Regions from separate parts of the Homo sapiens genome. Here regions 1, 3 and 4 are each reported to be linked to region 2. The links are microRNA targets in miRTarBase. Many come from high-throughput screens and were not tested one by one. Region 2 holds a microRNA gene; each other region holds the end of a gene's coding sequence. Distances are from middle to middle.

Region 1 (4,000 bases), 120 Mb from region 2:
TAATGTATATGCTTAAATCTAAAGAAATTTTTTAACTATTAGTACTTTGACATGCTAAAGAAGAACGTATTTGGATTATTAAAACATCTGAAATTTCAAGTTAGATACAAAATTCCATACTCATATATTTTACAAATTAAAAAGACAGTTAAAATGAAATCTTTTTATTGATGTCTAGAAGCTACTATTATCTAGTTGGGTATAACTATTAGATGAAAAGAAGTTTAGGTTTCTTCATTTGGGTTTGGTTTGGTTTTAGTTTTAGGGAGAAAGAAATAGTTGAAACTGTTTGTATATTTAGAAATAATTTTGACCTATGATAAAATTTGTATAGATCTTTGCATCTTACCGACAACCAAGGACATTCAACTATGTTCTAGGCAGAGTTACCATTGCCATTTCCATATTTGATCCTGTTACAACTTCATTTTTACATATTTAAGGTAAATGCAATGCTACTAAAATAAAAATTTGTTGCTAGTAAAATTAATCAAAATATGAATAACAATAGTTTCTTCAATAGATTATATAGAGCAAATGGTAACTAATCTATAATGATGGATTAGTCAAGTGAAAACTAGTTTGCAGTCTCAGACTACGTTTGTAAGTGATGATTTAAAATAAAAAAGGTTGTTTCTTAGACATTTCTAGAAATTATTCAAATATTGCATAGTTCTAGAAAGCATTCCAATCTTAGATTTACTGAATGAGCAGGGATATGTTTTTCTATAGCAGAATGAAAATATGCTTTCATTGTAAGTAAACCCAGTTCCCCTATTAAAAACCTCTGGTAAGATTAAGTAGCTTTTGGAGTTTTCAAATAAAGCTATTTTCTCTCCTAGAAAAGGGAGTCACACCTGTACAATCACTTATGCTTATATGTTTTAACCTATGAATAAAAATTTATAATAAAAACTTGGGAATATTTTATACCTCTAAATCATTTCCATGGCCTCCCAACACTTCCATGGTTTATTGTTGTGTCTTCTCTTAGTTGCTCATTAGGGAATAGCACTACAGCAGACACAGTCCATAGCATACCAGGTAGTATATATAAATAATGAACACAAGGCTTTTATTCACAACTTCATCATATCAAACTACATCAGTCTAAATAGGCAAATGAAGGCAATAAAATTGTAACGCTCAAAATAAGGCCAGACATAAGTAGCTAGAGAAATGAAATTTATTTGTTGAAATCAATTTGTGGGGTACTTTCATACATTTAAATTTACTCAGTTTTTAAATTGTGTGTGTGTGTGTGTGTGTGTTTTCTGTGAGGAGTGTTTCTCCTAGTGATGGGCATTCTTATTTTTTGTTTTAAATACAAATTTTGCTCTGGTACAAAAGTTGCAAAGCACACACTCCAGCAAATTAAGTAATTATTTGTGATTTAAGATAATGCAAATGAGTGGCCGAGAAACTGGGCTGTTATCATATATCAGACACTTATATATATATTTTTGTGGCCAAATCATGAATTTAAAAGAAAAATGAACTCCATGAAAAGACTTATTACTTGTTGATCATCTTTATGGTGATTCTGTAATATCCCAATTTTTGCATTATTTTTTCTAAAAAAAAATCCATAGCATATTTAAGAATTCACAAAATGGAGTCATAAACAGTGTAGTCACTGTAATTTCCTTCATTCTGATACCCTTATTCTCTTCTTCCACAAATAGCAAATTCTTCTTTGGGATGCATGCAGAGAGGAAAAGTATCTACCAAATGTGGATGTTAGGTAGCCATAAAAAATCAAGTAGCTAGCAATAATTTGGGAAATAAACAAATCATTTCAGCCTAAAAAAGGCTCAGAAGATGGCTTGAAAAGCAAAATACATCTAACTTATAACTTTAGGTTGCCAATTCTTCAGGCTGTGAATTAAACCAGGCCAATTTGCCCCTCTCAGTTCTCCTGCTTTGGGGCCACTTCTTGAAATAACTTTCAGAATAGTAAAAGGAGGTAAAACATTCATGAATTTCGAAAATAATTAGCAGCTAAAAGAAAATAAAACTGTTGGGAGAAGAAGTTTAAATAAATTCTAAGAAGTGATGGCTGCACTGATGATTTCAATGTCAAAGTAGTACGGCTTATATTTTTATGGAAAACTGAAAGCTCACTCTTGGTTTTAAAAACTGTATTCAAGAAAAGGAAGTAAACTGCTATGAAACTTATGCATAACAACTTTGGACAAGAACACTTCGTTCTCTGTTTTGATTTTTTAAAAACCCTCAAGGGTACACTGATGACTTGTAATATGTGATAATTGAAATCTTCTATTCACAATCCTTTAACTGTTTCTGTGGTGCAATGAGAAACTACTGTATTAGAATTTGCAATATAAGTTGATTTCAACCTTGAGAGATTTATAAAAATAAGTTTGTCTCATTATCCTGTAACACTAAAATGAGTGAAATGTGTCAACTCTTCTACTTCTGCGAAACAGGAGAAATTGTATTTAACCACATGTTAAACCCATCAAAGATATACTTTCCAAATAAAAATGAGTGGTATAAGACATAAAAGCCATATAGAAAGATTTTGTTACCATCATTTTCTGTTCCTTTATGTGATTATGAAAAGTAAAAATGAAAGCTAGTTTACATTTTATTTTTAACCCATTGGATTGTCTTCCATTTTATTTATTTATTTTTATCTTCTTTTTATTTATTTATTTATTTTATTTTATTATTATTTTTTTTTTTTGAGACAGAGTTTCACTCTTGTCACCCAGGCTAGAATGCAATGGCACAATCTCGGCTCACTGCAACCTCCGCCTCCCAGGTTCAAGTGATTCTCCTGTCTCAGCCGCCCAAGTAGCTGGGATTACAAGCACTTACCATCACGCCCAGCTAATTTTTGTATTTTTAGTAGAGATGGGGTTTCACCATGTTGGCCAGGCTAGTCTCAAACTCCTGACCAGCGGTGATCCACTCACCTCGGCCTCCCAAAGTGCTGGAATTACAGGCGTGAGCCACCGCGCCCAGCCTGTCTTTCATGTTAGATCATAATATGATCTCACCAGATCCTTACTGAAAATGTACCTTATTACAAGTAGCTAAATTTCCACATAGAGGAATAAAAAGATTGGAGAATCAGGTTATGACTTTTCTAGCACTTTACAGTGTGCTATAGTAATGATAAACCCGTTTTAAACTTCTTAATCTTATCATCAAGCAACACCAGGCTTCTAAATCTTTTTGTTTCATTTAAAATGGCTACTATATATGAGAATTTTTAAGGTATTATACTAAACCCTTTTTCAGGTCAAAAGGCATGTTATCTAGAAAATAATTTAACACTGTAATTGGATCTTCAAGATCAATTTGTTTTATATACTCTGCAGCAAAAATAACATTTCTAGTAGGAAGGAATTAATTATAAACCTAGCAGATTCTAGACATTCACATATTTGTGTAAACAATTTTAACATGGTTTATTACGTTTCCAGAAAGGTTAAGTCTTATATTCCATTTTCTGCTAATTCTTCTTTCATATATCATTTAATATAATAAATATATGTTATTAGGGTGCATATGTGCATATATTTTCACACATATATATGTCTTATATACATAAAACAGCACTTAATGGTCATGTTCTTTGCATGTTCAACTTCAGAGGAAAAAAATGAATTGCTGTTATGTATAACCAATGGCGATCTTCCCTTCTGTTTCACAGATGGCCATATCTGGATGTAAACAAAACATTGGAGCGAGTCATTCCAGGTGAATTGTACTTCAAGTTGTAGGTTGGTGTTCTCAAGAAGAATTGGGTGCTCCCTGGTAGTAAATACCTAAAAATGATGGTTAACAAATTAGATTTTTACAAGCAAATTATAACTAACTCACTAAAGGGTTATGTGGTTAGCAATTTACGTAGTCTATATGAGAAATGTTACTGTAACAAAAATGCAATTCATATAAAAAGATTTCCTCCTCCAGACTGTAGGAAAGGAGAGAAGAGCTAAATATAGATGCAATATATGATGTTAGC
Region 2 (4,272 bases):
AAACCCTGGCCAATTCTCATGCCTTGTTCCTTTCACCATCTAAGCTGGGGCAGGAGGGGAAGTAGCCTGGATCAGCCCCAGCAAAAACCCAGCTGGCTTGGGATTTCTCTTTGCTTCTCCTATTGTTCTGATCCCCCCGCTCCCCCCGACCTCCTGTGGGAAAAGGAAAACCAGTGATGGACAAAGGGTGATTGGAGTTGGGCCACGGGGCCAATTTGTGGACGTGCATCCAATAGAGATCTCGTGAGAACAACCTCCCGTCTGGGTACAGCACTCCCTGGTTTTCAGAGTACTTTCCCATGCACTGGTGTTGGCTCTCCCAATATGCAGCATGATGTGCTAAGAGCATGGGTTTTGGCACCAGACCACGTGGGTTCACGTCCCAGTTGTGCTCCTTCCTATCCATATGAACGTGGGCCAATTTCTTAGCTCCCTGTGCCTCAGAATTCCCATAAGTTAAATAGGCTAACAGTAGACAGGACTGTCTTGAGGATGAAATGGGTTAGTGCAGGTGAGGCGGTTAGAATCATGGGGTACATAGTAGGTACCCAGTAAGTGTTGGTTGGTGAAATTAAGGGCTCTGAGATATTATAAGAAACTTGCCTTCTGATTGTCAATACCAAATCTAGTGCTTTCTGTGATTCTTCAGTGGTCTGTCTTAGACAGACTGGGGACTGGAACAGGGAGTAGGAGGCGGGGTACGAGGATGCTTCCTCTTCCACCACAGCCACCTGTTGGAATCTTCCAGGATGGGAGGGCTAAAATCAGGCCGATTTAAAAGGGGGCAGGGGAAGGAATGTGGGAGTGGCGACAGGCATAGGGAGGAGCCAGGCAAGCTGAGTGACAAGCAGGACGGGGGCAGGGAGGGCTGGTGCCCTTCACACACCGCAGGAGGGGGCAGCTCCTGGAGATGGTAGCACACCAGGAGCCAGGGACCCTGGAGTCCAGCCTGTCGCCCGGGGGAGCGCCTGCCTTCCTAGTTTCACTCTGCAGACACCTCCTCTTCCCTCGTGGCCGGCATGGAGTGTTCCCATTTCAGCCTCAGAAAGAGCCCAGAGGTCTCCTTACACAGAAAAAAGGCTGCAGATTCCAAGCTGACCTCAGAGAAAGGAGTGAAGGAGTGAGGTTTTCCTGGAGGCACTGAGCAAAGGCCCAAGTCTTCATGGCCTGAGGCCCTTGACTTCAGCCCCCAAATCTCTGGCCATAAGCCAGGCCTCAGTAATTTGGCAAGGGGGAAGGAACCGACTCAGAAAGCTCAGCACACCCTGAAGGTCTCCTTCCTTCCTCAGAGGGAATCTCCCTCTGGAATCACCGGCCCAGTCTCTTCATTCCAGAGTGAGGAAACAGGGCCAGAAGGGAAGTGACTGGGCCAAGGTCACACGGCTTAGCCCCGATCCCAGGTTACCAGATCCCGTGATGCCCCACCCCCAAGCAAAGCCTCCTTCTGGTGCCCCTTGGTGGCTGGCTCCGAACCTGGTCCCATGGGAGGTGCAGCTGCGCAGGAGAAGGAGCTCGCCCCTCACTGTAGCCCATGGCTTTTAGCCCTACATGAGTTTGGGACAGCAATCACATAGGAATGAAAAGCCATAGGCCACAGCAGAGTGGAGGGGTCCAGCGGCAGGAATCTCATAGGGAAGCGAGAAGCTGGGGCACCCGAGAAGCCCTCACTCCCCTTCTCAGCACCCCCGACCCCAGACCCACCCACACTGCCTCCCTCCAGGACTGGGCCCCCCAGGTTAAATTCTCTCACCATCTTCCACCACCTGCACTAAAGCCATCCCAGTAATGAGTTTCCAGTTCTTGCCCTACAAAGGCCTCACACAATGGTCCTCACTCCAGGGTATGAGGAGGGGTGGCTTCCTGGCCATAAAGGACCTCCTCAAATTCCCTTAATTAGCTTCCAGCCCCCTGCCCAGGGTCCTTAACTACCCCTTCCCTAGAGAATAAGGCCGGATCTTTTCAAGGCTGCTGCTGCCAGTACCCAGGATGGGGGGCCCCAGGTTAGGCTCCCTCTTTACAAAGCTTAACTCTTTCTAGTCCAGCCACTGGAAGCACAGAGGGCAAAGGAGGGTCTGGGTAAAGGAGGGCAGCGATGAGGACCTACCCTTTGTTTAGAGGGGTTAAATAGGTTTCTTGAGTGCCCCCAGGGGTGGGGGCTGGGCCAACCTACCCAGACCAGTCTGGGTGGTTACCGACAACACCCATTCTTGCATAGTTTAGAGGAGAGTGAGATCTCTGTCTCCAGACCTGGTTGGAGTCAGAAAGAGGGCTTCAGCTGAAACCTCCCCAAGCTGAGGGCAGCTCACTCTGGAGCCATCCCTGACAAGGCTGTGGGAGGGGTGCGCAGTGCCCTGCCGCTCTCATTGGCAGGACATGGGGGTTAGCACAGACATCTCTAGGACTGGATTGAAGAGCTGAGTTAAGGCGAACCAAGGTCTCAGGGCCCTGGAAAAGGTGTGTTCTAATCACAAGTGCTATTTCCCCACCCGCTCCCATGACGGGTCAGCTGCAGGCATCAGCTTCAGAGAAGTGGGCTTCTAGGGCTCCTGCTAGCCCAGGCTCAGGAAAGCCCCAGGGGCCTCAGACCTCTCCCAGGGGCCCCCAAGAAGATGGTAAGAGGCCCCAGGCCCAGATCAGGCCCTGCCTCTGCCAGGGAGTAGCTGCCTCTCCCACCCCAACTGTACCCTCAGCCCCAGGGCAACACTTGCTGGCTCCCTGCACAACCCTGGTAGAAGCAACCTGTTTTCACTGGACAGGAATCCTGCATTCCCCAACAACAGCACAGCACAGCACAGCACACAGCACACAGCACAGCACAGCACGCCCCTCCACACACTCCAGACATGCCCAACCTTCAGGGCCAAACAACCAGGCATCCTGCGGCCTCCCACCTGAACTTTGGGCCATCTGCCCCAGCCCCAACCCCCTCTGGTTCTCCTTTCCTTCCTCTCTCATGGGCCCCCAGAACCCCAGACCCAGGCCCTGCATAAAGCCATGGACTCTAGGCAGAATGCCCTCAGCTCCCTCCCAAGGGATGCTGGGCCAGGGGCTGGGGGTCCCAGGGGCTGCTCACCTGGCGGACTCAACAAGGCCCCCTTTCCCTCGCAGTCCGCCTCACAATTCCCCGCAGAGCCACTTCCTGCCTTCCAGGCAGCCACTCACTCCTCCACTCACCCCGAGAAGCTCCACGCCCCAGCGAGGGCAGGCCTCCTCCCTCCCCCTGCCCGCCCACCACCGGCCAGGGCTGAGCTGTACCCAACTCAACTTGACTCACTTGTGACCGGCCCCTCCCCCAGCCCTGAGGACGGTGGGGGTGGGGGTGGGGGCGGGCTGGGCAGGCGGGGCAGCCAGGTATTCCTTCAACCCTGACTTGGGCCTGAGTAACAAAGGTCTCATTGAGCCTCTGGCTGTCTGGTCGGTGAAGCACAAACCTCTTGTATCTACTGGCTTTTGATCTCACTCCCTCTGAACCAGCCATGTATTACTCACGTCCCCCTGCCGGGCTATTGGTGCAGAGGGGCTGTTTGGTCCCTCCCTCCCTCCCCATCTCCTTTCTCTCCTTCCTTCCCCTGCCGCTCCCCTCCAGCTTTTTTATAGTTTAATTTTTGGCAGGAGACCTGAGACGGCTCCCTGCAGGCCCCCCTCTCCTGCCTGGCCCCCCTCCCCTTCTCCGCAGCCCTGGTTCCTCTCCTCACCCATACCCCTATTCTGCTCCCACCACTCCCCTGCCCTGGGAGGACAAGGTCAGCACTTATCTGTCCTTCCATTTCCTTTCTCAGACCTGCTCGAGCCTGGCCCCCTCCACCCACCCTCACCCAGTCCTGCGCTCGGATTCCCAGCCATAGCCTGCCAATCCCAGCTGCCTATCCCTGGGCACATGAAGGGCTCAGCCCCTGGCCTGCCTACCAATCCCAGCCCACCTGACAAGCCCCAAGTAAGCTGTGGAAGTAGGGCATCTCTCTCTAAGGTGTGTCTGGGCCAGAGGGACTGGGCTGGGGATGGAGGTGGGGACAGCCATCATGTCTCAGGCTGGAGTGAACCTCACTTGAAATATGGAGAAAGAGGAAGCAGGTCAAGCCTCACCTCCTTTCCCGAGGAAAACCCTGCTTCCTCCAATCCCGAGAACCTGGGCAGTGAAAGGCCACTGCTGGGCGAGAACCTCGAGGACTCCCTCTCCTCAAGATGGGGCCATGCCCACGATTCCTGTCTCCTCTGGGGCCACCACAACCTTTCTGCAGCTTGCTGGTGGTGAGAACTGGGGCCCAGCAGCCC
Region 3 (4,000 bases), not on the chromosome of region 2:
GTCAAGAATTTGAGACCAACCTGGCCAACATGGTGAAACCCCATCTGTACTAAACATACAAAAATTAGCCAAGTGTGGTGGCGCACGCCTGTAGTCCCAGAAGGCTGAAGCAGGAGAATTACTTGAACCCTGGAGGTGGAGGTTGCGGTGAGCTGAGATCGTGCCACTGCACTCCAGCCTGGGCGACAGAGCGAGACTCTGCCTCAAAAAAAAATTAAAAAAAAAAAGCTTTATAATTATAGAGACTGTAAGTCTTGGGAAACCTGGGAATGCATAGACAAAATGTGAGATTTTTTTTTTTTCATTTCATCTTCAGGGTCTTTACGGAATAAAGGATGATGTCTTCCTTAGTGTTCCTTGCATTTTGGGACAGAATGGAATCTCAGACCTTGTGAAGGTGACTCTGACTTCTGAGGAAGAGGCCCGTTTGAAGAAGAGTGCAGATACACTTTGGGGGATCCAAAAGGAGCTGCAATTTTAAAGTCTTCTGATGTCATATCATTTCACTGTCTAGGCTACAACAGGATTCTAGGTGGAGGTTGTGCATGTTGTCCTTTTTATCTGATCTGTGATTAAAGCAGTAATATTTTAAGATGGACTGGGAAAAACATCAACTCCTGAAGTTAGAAATAAGAATGGTTTGTAAAATCCACAGCTATATCCTGATGCTGGATGGTATTAATCTTGTGTAGTCTTCAACTGGTTAGTGTGAAATAGTTCTGCCACCTCTGACGCACCACTGCCAATGCTGTACGTACTGCATTTGCCCCTTGAGCCAGGTGGATGTTTACCGTGTGTTATATAACTTCCTGGCTCCTTCACTGAACATGCCTAGTCCAACATTTTTTCCCAGTGAGTCACATCCTGGGATCCAGTGTATAAATCCAATATCATGTCTTGTGCATAATTCTTCCAAAGGATCTTATTTTGTGAACTATATCAGTAGTGTACATTACCATATAATGTAAAAAGATCTACATACAAACAATGCAACCAACTATCCAAGTGTTATACCAACTAAAACCCCCAATAAACCTTGAACAGTGACTACTTTGGTTAATTCATTATATTAAGATATAAAGTCATAAAGCTGCTAGTTATTATATTAATTTGGAAATATTAGGCTATTCTTGGGCAACCCTGCAACGATTTTTTCTAACAGGGATATTATTGACTAATAGCAGAGGATGTAATAGTCAACTGAGTTGTATTGGTACCACTTCCATTGTAAGTCCCAAAGTATTATATATTTGATAATAATGCTAATCATAATTGGAAAGTAACATTCTATATGTAAATGTAAAATTTATTTGCCAACTGAATATAGGCAATGATAGTGTGTCACTATAGGGAACACAGATTTTTGAGATCTTGTCCTCTGGAAGCTGGTAACAATTAAAAACAATCTTAAGGCAGGGTGCAGTGGCTCATGCCTATAATCCCAGCACTTTGGGAAGCCCAGGTGGGCTGATCACTGGAGGCCAGGAATTGGGGACCAGCCTGGCCAACACAACAAAACCCCATCTGTTAAAAAAACAAAACAAAACCAAAAAAAACAAGTAACCTTGGTGGATGTCTACTCAAGTTTTCTGCACATTTTTCTGAAAATACAACTGTGACCCTTATCCAGGCCTGAAAACCATACTTGTAAAGGTTAACTGAACAACATTATTGTCATTCCCAACTCCAGGATCTTTTTCCAAAGATTCTTTCCTGAGAGCTAGTTAAGGGAAGGAATTATCTTAAAGCCTGGTTGTCCAATCTTTTGCTTTCCCTGAGCCACATTGGAAGAAGAATTGTCTTGGGCCACACATTAAATACACTAACATGTGCCAGCTGTGGTGGCTGACACCTATAATCCCAGCACTTGGGGAGGCTGAGGCGGGTGGATCAGGAGTTCAAGACTAGCATGGCCAACATGGTGAAACCCCATCTGTACTAAAAATCGAAAGATTTGCCAGGTATGGTGGCCTATGCTTGTAATCCCAGCTACTTGGGAAGCTGAGGCACAAGAGGCTGAGGTGAGAGGATCGCTTGAACCGGGGAGGCAGAGATTGAAGTGAGCCAAGATGGCACCACTGCACTCGAGCCTGGGCAACACAGCGAGACTGTCTCAATAAAAATTAAAGAAATTAACACTAATGATAGCTGATGAGCTACAAAAAAGTTCATGATCTGGATACCTGCTGCCACCTAAAGAGTCCTCACATTCAAAGGGTTGGACACAGCTATAAAGCGTATCGTTCTGTGGATTTTTAGTGTATTCACATAGTTGGCAACCATCACCAGTATCTAATCTTAGAATATAGGCTGGGTGCAGTGGCTTCAAATTCCCAGCACTTTAGGAGGCCAAGGTGGGTAGATTGCTTGAGCCCAGGAGTTCCAGACCAGTCTGGGCAACATGGCAAAAGCCTGTCTCTACAAAAAAGAAATTAGCTAGGCGTGGTGGCAGGTGCCTGTAGTCCTAGCTGCACAGGAGGCTCAGGTGGGAGGATCCCTTGAACCCGGGAGATAAAGGTTGCAGTGAGCCAAGATCCCACCACTGTACTCCAGCCTGGGTGACAGAGTGAGACCCTGTTTCAAAAAAAAAAAAAAGAATATTTTAATTAGCACAAAAAGAGGCCTGTACTTAATCCTGTAGCCTTTTGTAAACTTTGAGTCACCTTCAGTCTTTAAAATTTTTAAATTTACATTAATTTTATATTATTTGATACAATAAATTAGTCAATACCAACATGACTGAAAAATAATATTTAAGTGAAATAGACTGATTCTATTAATCTTTCATGAATTTTCAAATGCAATCTTGTAAAGTTTCCTTACTTATGGGCAAAATAAATGTTCCAGGTTCAGTTTGTACCTTCCTGCCCCAGGCAAGGAATAGGCCAACTCTGCAAAGAAACTTGATTTTTTTTTTCCATAGTAACCTTGGGAACTAAATTAAGCAGGCCTTATCCCCATCTCACAGAAGTTGCCAGTTAGTGTAGAAGCAAATGTGATGCTCAGAACATGGTTCTACTTCCTTTTTTTCCCCCACTAAAGCCCATGTTGCCAAAATAAAACTCAGTACTTCAAAGCCATGTTCTTTAAAAATTCTTTAAATTTTTTTTTTATTTTGGCCAGGTGCGGTGGCTCACGCCTGTAATCCCAGCACTTTGGGAGGCTGAGGCGGGTGGATCACAAGGTCAGGAGATTGAAAACATCCTGGCTAACATAGTGAAACTCCATCTCTACTAAAAATACAAAAAATTAGCTGGGCATGGTGGCGGGCGCCTGTAGTCCCAGCTACTCGGGAGGCTGAGGCAGGAGAATGGCGTGAACCCGGGAGGCGGAGCTTGCAGTGAGCCGAGATCGGACCACTGTACTACAGCCTGGGCGAGACTGCGAGACTCTGTCTCAAAAAAAATTATTTTATTTTATTTTGTTTTTATTTTTGGGGGTAGAGATGGGGGTCTCCCTATGTTGCCAGACTGGTCTTGAACTCCTGGGCTGAAGCCTCGGCCTCCCAAAGTGCTGGGATTGCAGGAGTGAGCCACCATGTCTGGCCCAAAAATTCTTTAGTGAGTACCTACTATGCTTTGGTAAATGTTGCAATGTACAAGAATAAATAAAGACAAATTTTGGTTCTAAAGTTACTGCAATCAAGTAAGCAAAATGTTAAGTAAGTTTGGAGTATTTGGGCAGGCATGGATGAAGAGCCAGTTCTAGTCATCTAGCATCAGTTTGGCCACTACCAAGCTGATACCTTCCTTGGCCGCCAGGGGCCTGAGGCAGGTGTAGAGCTTAAATTTCCAGTCCATCCAGGCCAGCAATCTCCCTCTCAGCCCGGGGATAAATGAGGTTGCTGTGGAGGTATAGGACCAAGTGGTTGCTGCTCCTGTCTGCTATAGGAGGCCTCTAGCTTCAGGCTAGTTGCTGGTTGAGAAAAGTGCCATAAGAGAGAGATATACAGGAAATGATGGTAGTTGACATTTGTCAAGGAAAGCCAGAGTATGTATGT
Region 4 (4,000 bases), not on the chromosome of region 2:
GAAACCCTGTCCCCACTAAAAATACAAAAAATTGGCCGGGCATGGTGGTGGGCACCTGTAGTCCCAGCTACTCGGGAGGCTAAGGCAGGAGAATGGCGTGAACCCATGAGGTCCGTCTCAAAAAAAAAAATGTATCTAGGCTGTAATTCTATTTCAGTTTGTGTATAATTCTGTTTGTGTATGTCTTTTTCTCTCTTAGGGATGTATTCTTGGCCTGGGTAGCCTCTAGAAATTCAAACACAGTGGTGTTTGTGAAATAGTCCTTCCTGTTCTCCAAGCCAGTGAAGAGTTATCTGCTGGGAAAGTGTCCAAGAGCCTGTTTTTGAAACACAAGCTGGGCTTCTGGTAGTGCCTCATCACAACCCATGATGGCTGTTCATGTTTCACCCCTTTTCTTCCTTCAGCAGAGGCCAGGCTATGGAGCAGGGCCACTGAATTTGCTGTAATCTGGAGATGCTTTTTACTTTCAACCATAAGCGGTAATAGCAGAGGAAAGGGTGAAGGGAGTCTGGGCAAGCAAAGCATAGAGATGGTGGGGTGGTGGTGGGGTTGAAGAAACTTGTTGGTATAATTGTCATAGGACTTGCCTAAAATATTATTAAAATTACGGGAGTGTACTCAGCTTTGAGCCTAGGAGAAAATGCCACTGTGTGCATCCATTTTAAAGGGTTCCCTCATAAAAAAATGTTATTCCCCATTATCACATCAGTACACTGCTTTGAAAACAAAACTTTTCAACATGGGCATACTGGGCTACATGGAAAATGACATCACCCAGGAGTGATTTCTCTTTATATATATTATTTCTGCAGTTACCATCCTTATCTGAGTTATCACAGTTCATGAATCTAAGAGGCGGAACTCTACATCATTAGTAAGAGGTTCCACCAAAGTCTAAAGTTGTATTCACTTGTGTTTGATGAACTATCTTTAAAAGACCATAGGTCTATCATTATTTCTTAGACATAATCTAAAGAAAAACAGACTAGAGAAGCCACCTGGTTGTAACAGAATAAGCAGAAGTTTACAGCATGATAGTCCAAGTGGTGATAACTTTAAATAAAACTCAAATTTTTACTGTTTGTAGACAGGAATGCTGTCCTAGAGAACCTCCTCCTCAACCAGCTACGTACATAGTTTTATCCTATGCATTCCTGTTTTCTGTGTGTTTTTTGTTTTTTTTTTTTTTTTTTTTTTTTGAGACAGAGTCTCGCTCTGTCACCCAGGCTGGAGTGCAGTGGTGCGACCTCAGCTCACTGAAACCTCTGCCTCCCGGGTTCAAGCGATTCTCCTGCATCAGCCTCCCGAGTAGCTAGGATTACAGGCGCCCGCCACTACGCCCAGCTAATTTGTGGTATTTTTAGTAGAGACAGGGTTTCACCATGTTGGCCAGGCTGGTCTCGAACTCCTGACCTCATGATCCGCCCGCCTTGACCTCCCAAAGTGCTGGGATTACAGGCATGAGCCACCGCACCCAGCCTGCATTCCTGTTTTTTTAATGGTTTTGGAGGGTAGCAGTAGAGATGGGGTCTCACTATGTTGCCCAGTCTAGTCTTGAACTCCTGGGCTACAGTTACCCTCCTACCTCGGCTTCCCAAAGTGCTCGGATTACAGGTGTGAGCCACTGTGCCTAGCCTATAATGATCATTTTAATGTTTCCCATGCACTCATTTAGTTTGAACCTTCACAGCAACCCAATGAGGTAATACTCCCATTTCACATATAATACTGAGAGATGAGTTGCACAAGATTATACACTGTTAAGTAGCAGAGCCAGAATGGACTTCAGAATCCCAACTACAATACAAATGTTTATTTAAATAAAGAAGAAAGCTATTGTACAAATATCACTCTTCAGGTTTAGCTTACAGAGCCATGGCTATGGATTCTTAGCTCTGTAAGGAAGTGCTTCTATAAATTCTTAGGTTTAGAGATGATACCATCTGGGTACCTTTGCTTGAACCGTGCAACCACATCTGGGTCTAGTAGGTGGATCCCATCCAGTTGGTTTCCAAGGGTGATCCTGAAACAGTGTAAAAGGAGGGGCAAACCAGAAATCCTGGAATTAGAGGGTTTAATATTGTTAAAAAATGCATACCAAATGAAGACTGCCTATCATCATATCAAATATGCCAATTCTAAAAAGAGCTTAACATTAGAATAGTATATGGTAGAATTACTAGTTCAGAATTGGCATAGATTCTGGTGTTAAAATAGACTGGATCTGTATTATCTGAGGGTTAGTAACTAATGCTTAGCCAGGCCTGCTTCACAGAGTTGCTACCAGGGAGTATTCTTTGGATAAGCAAAATGCTAGCAGCATGTGTTTTAAGCTCTGTTAAGGGGTGAAAGATGTAATTATTGACAGATTAAATAGATAACTTCGTAACCACCAGGGGGCAGATTCAATACATCACAGAATGGCTGAGGAAGATCCTTGGGTTGTGAAGAGAGTAGAAACCCTAGGGAGCAGTGCTTTTGGGTCCTAGAACCTGTTGAGTTTCTAATGAATATTTGTAGAATCTCATAAAACAGTTTAAATACAAGCTTAAGTGGCTTATGAATCCTGTGAAGCTCATTTATGGACTAGTGTAAAACAATGTGAAGCTCTACTAAGTTCTGTCCTTAATCATAAATAATAGCCCCTTGAGGACTAGCCTGTTCTCTGGTCACCTTACCAGTTGGGTTGCACATTGTGTGGTCGTCCAAATAACTCAATCTTGCGAGTGCCAGGAGATAGTCTTTCAATCATGCCATAGATTTCATCTGGTTTATGACTGGTGGAACGAACCTAGGAAATAAAAACTAGCTGCTTTTTAAGTTACACAAGATTGCAATTCTAGCCCTTTCTATTATGTTTATGATCTAAATGAGAAAAATCTGGGATGAGAATACACCCAACATGAATAACTGATACCAACAAAAATGTGGAAGCTTTGGAGGCCTGGGAAGCACATACCTCAGCTACGATCACATCACAATCCAGACCCTGGTTGAAGCCTTGGGGATTTCCTTTGACACCAACCTGCTCACCACAGATAACAGATTACCTTATGAAACCACACCTTTGAACTTTTTCTCAGTAAGAAATCAAATGATTCTTCTTTGTGCTCCACCTATTGAATTGGGCCCCACTGCTGCTCACCAAGCAGTGTTCCTTCCCATGGTTCAACCAGTGACCTGTACGGCCTGTCCGAATGATGCGTTGCAGTTGATTTGTCTTCACCCAAATAATTTCATCTACCCGTTCATACCTGTGGGGCATAAAAAAGAACTAGAATTTTAGCCAAACTTTTACAGTTTAGGGGTAGTACCATTTATAGAAGCAAGGAATCACAGAATAGTCTGGGAGAAGAGAACATGTATCTCACTGTAACAGTATTACCCTCAAAAGAAAGCAACACAACCACTACTTACCCCCAGAGGTTTAGACATTCTCTCCCCAACTCCATGGCCCTAGAAAGAAATGAGTTAAACAACTATTTGTATGCCCATATTTTTTTTCCCTTCAAAATATGTGATGTGTTAAAAACACTATAAACACTTTTTCAGTAGACGCTCAGTGAACATTTACATGCACACCACCAAAAGCATGGTGGATCTAAGAACGAAAAGATAAAACTATGCTCAACAACCTTACCTTTCTCAAAGAACAAATGTAGAGTTAAATATATATTCGGGGTAAAATTTGCATTGTAAACAGGCATTAGGACTCAGTAGAAAAAAAGACTGGCTGGGCATGGTAGCTCACGCCTGTAATCCCAGCACTTTAGGAGCTCGAGGTGAGTGGATCACAAGGTCAGGAGATAGAGACCATCCTGGCTAACATGGTGAAATCCAGTCTCTACTAAAAATACAAAAAGAAAAAATTAGCTGGGCTGGTGGCACGTGCCTGTAATCCCAGCTACTCAGGAGGCTGAGGCAGGAGAATTGCTTGAACCTGGGAGGTGGAGGTTGCAGTGAGCTGAGATCACACTACTGCACTCCAGCCTAAGCAACA

What was found. Region 2 holds the annotated microRNA hsa-miR-135b-5p (UAUGGCUUUUCAUUCCUAUGUGA, at 1,567-1,589, opposite strand). A microRNA usually pairs through its seed, bases 2 to 8, with sites in the 3' UTR of a target mRNA and lowers its output. Matches are read on the target gene's strand: a 7mer-m8 pairs with bases 2 to 8, a 7mer-A1 pairs with bases 2 to 7 and ends in A, and an 8mer does both.
Region 1: the mRNA of TTLL7 is a reported target of hsa-miR-135b-5p. Seed matches in the 3' UTR shown: 7mer-m8 at 1,822-1,828.
Region 3: the mRNA of LDHA is a reported target of hsa-miR-135b-5p. The part of its 3' UTR that is shown has no 7-base or 8-base seed match.
Region 4: miRTarBase lists TOX4 as a target of hsa-miR-135b-5p. The part of its 3' UTR that is shown has no 7-base or 8-base seed match.

What each region holds. Positions count from the first base shown.
Region 1 is chr1:83,866,283-83,870,282 of GRCh38, forward strand. TTLL7 (tubulin tyrosine ligase like 7) reads right to left here. Exons shown (of 21, transcript NM_024686.6): 21 at 1-3,800. The coding sequence ends at 3,680. Among named protein-coding and RNA genes, the nearest start is that of LINC01725, 7.3 kb to the left of the region's middle.
Region 2 is chr1:205,446,795-205,451,066 of GRCh38, forward strand. It overlaps MIR135B (microRNA 135b), which reads right to left and starts at 1,604; the gene lies at 1,508-1,604. The region is part of intron 1 of BLACAT1 (BLACAT1 overlapping LEMD1 locus); the gene reads right to left. It also overlaps a transcript of LEMD1 not described here. RefSeq lists a silencer at 3,189-3,398.
Region 3 is chr11:18,406,801-18,410,800 of GRCh38, forward strand. LDHA (lactate dehydrogenase A) reads left to right here. Exons shown (of 8, transcript NM_005566.4): 8 at 317-1,625. The coding sequence ends at 481. Among named protein-coding and RNA genes, the nearest start is that of LDHC, 3.5 kb to the right of the region's middle.
Region 4 is chr14:21,496,347-21,500,346 of GRCh38, forward strand. It overlaps TOX4 (TOX high mobility group box family member 4), which reads left to right. Exons shown (of 9, transcript NM_014828.4): 9 at 200-2,824. The coding sequence ends at 260. METTL3 (methyltransferase 3, N6-adenosine-methyltransferase complex catalytic subunit) reads right to left here. Exons shown (of 11, transcript NM_019852.5): 7 at 3,418-3,456; 8 at 3,146-3,254; 9 at 2,960-3,025; 10 at 2,679-2,791; 11 at 1,792-2,023. The coding sequence ends at 1,912. Among named protein-coding and RNA genes, the nearest start is that of METTL3, 13 kb to the right of the region's middle. RefSeq lists enhancers at 2,326-2,415, 2,446-2,495.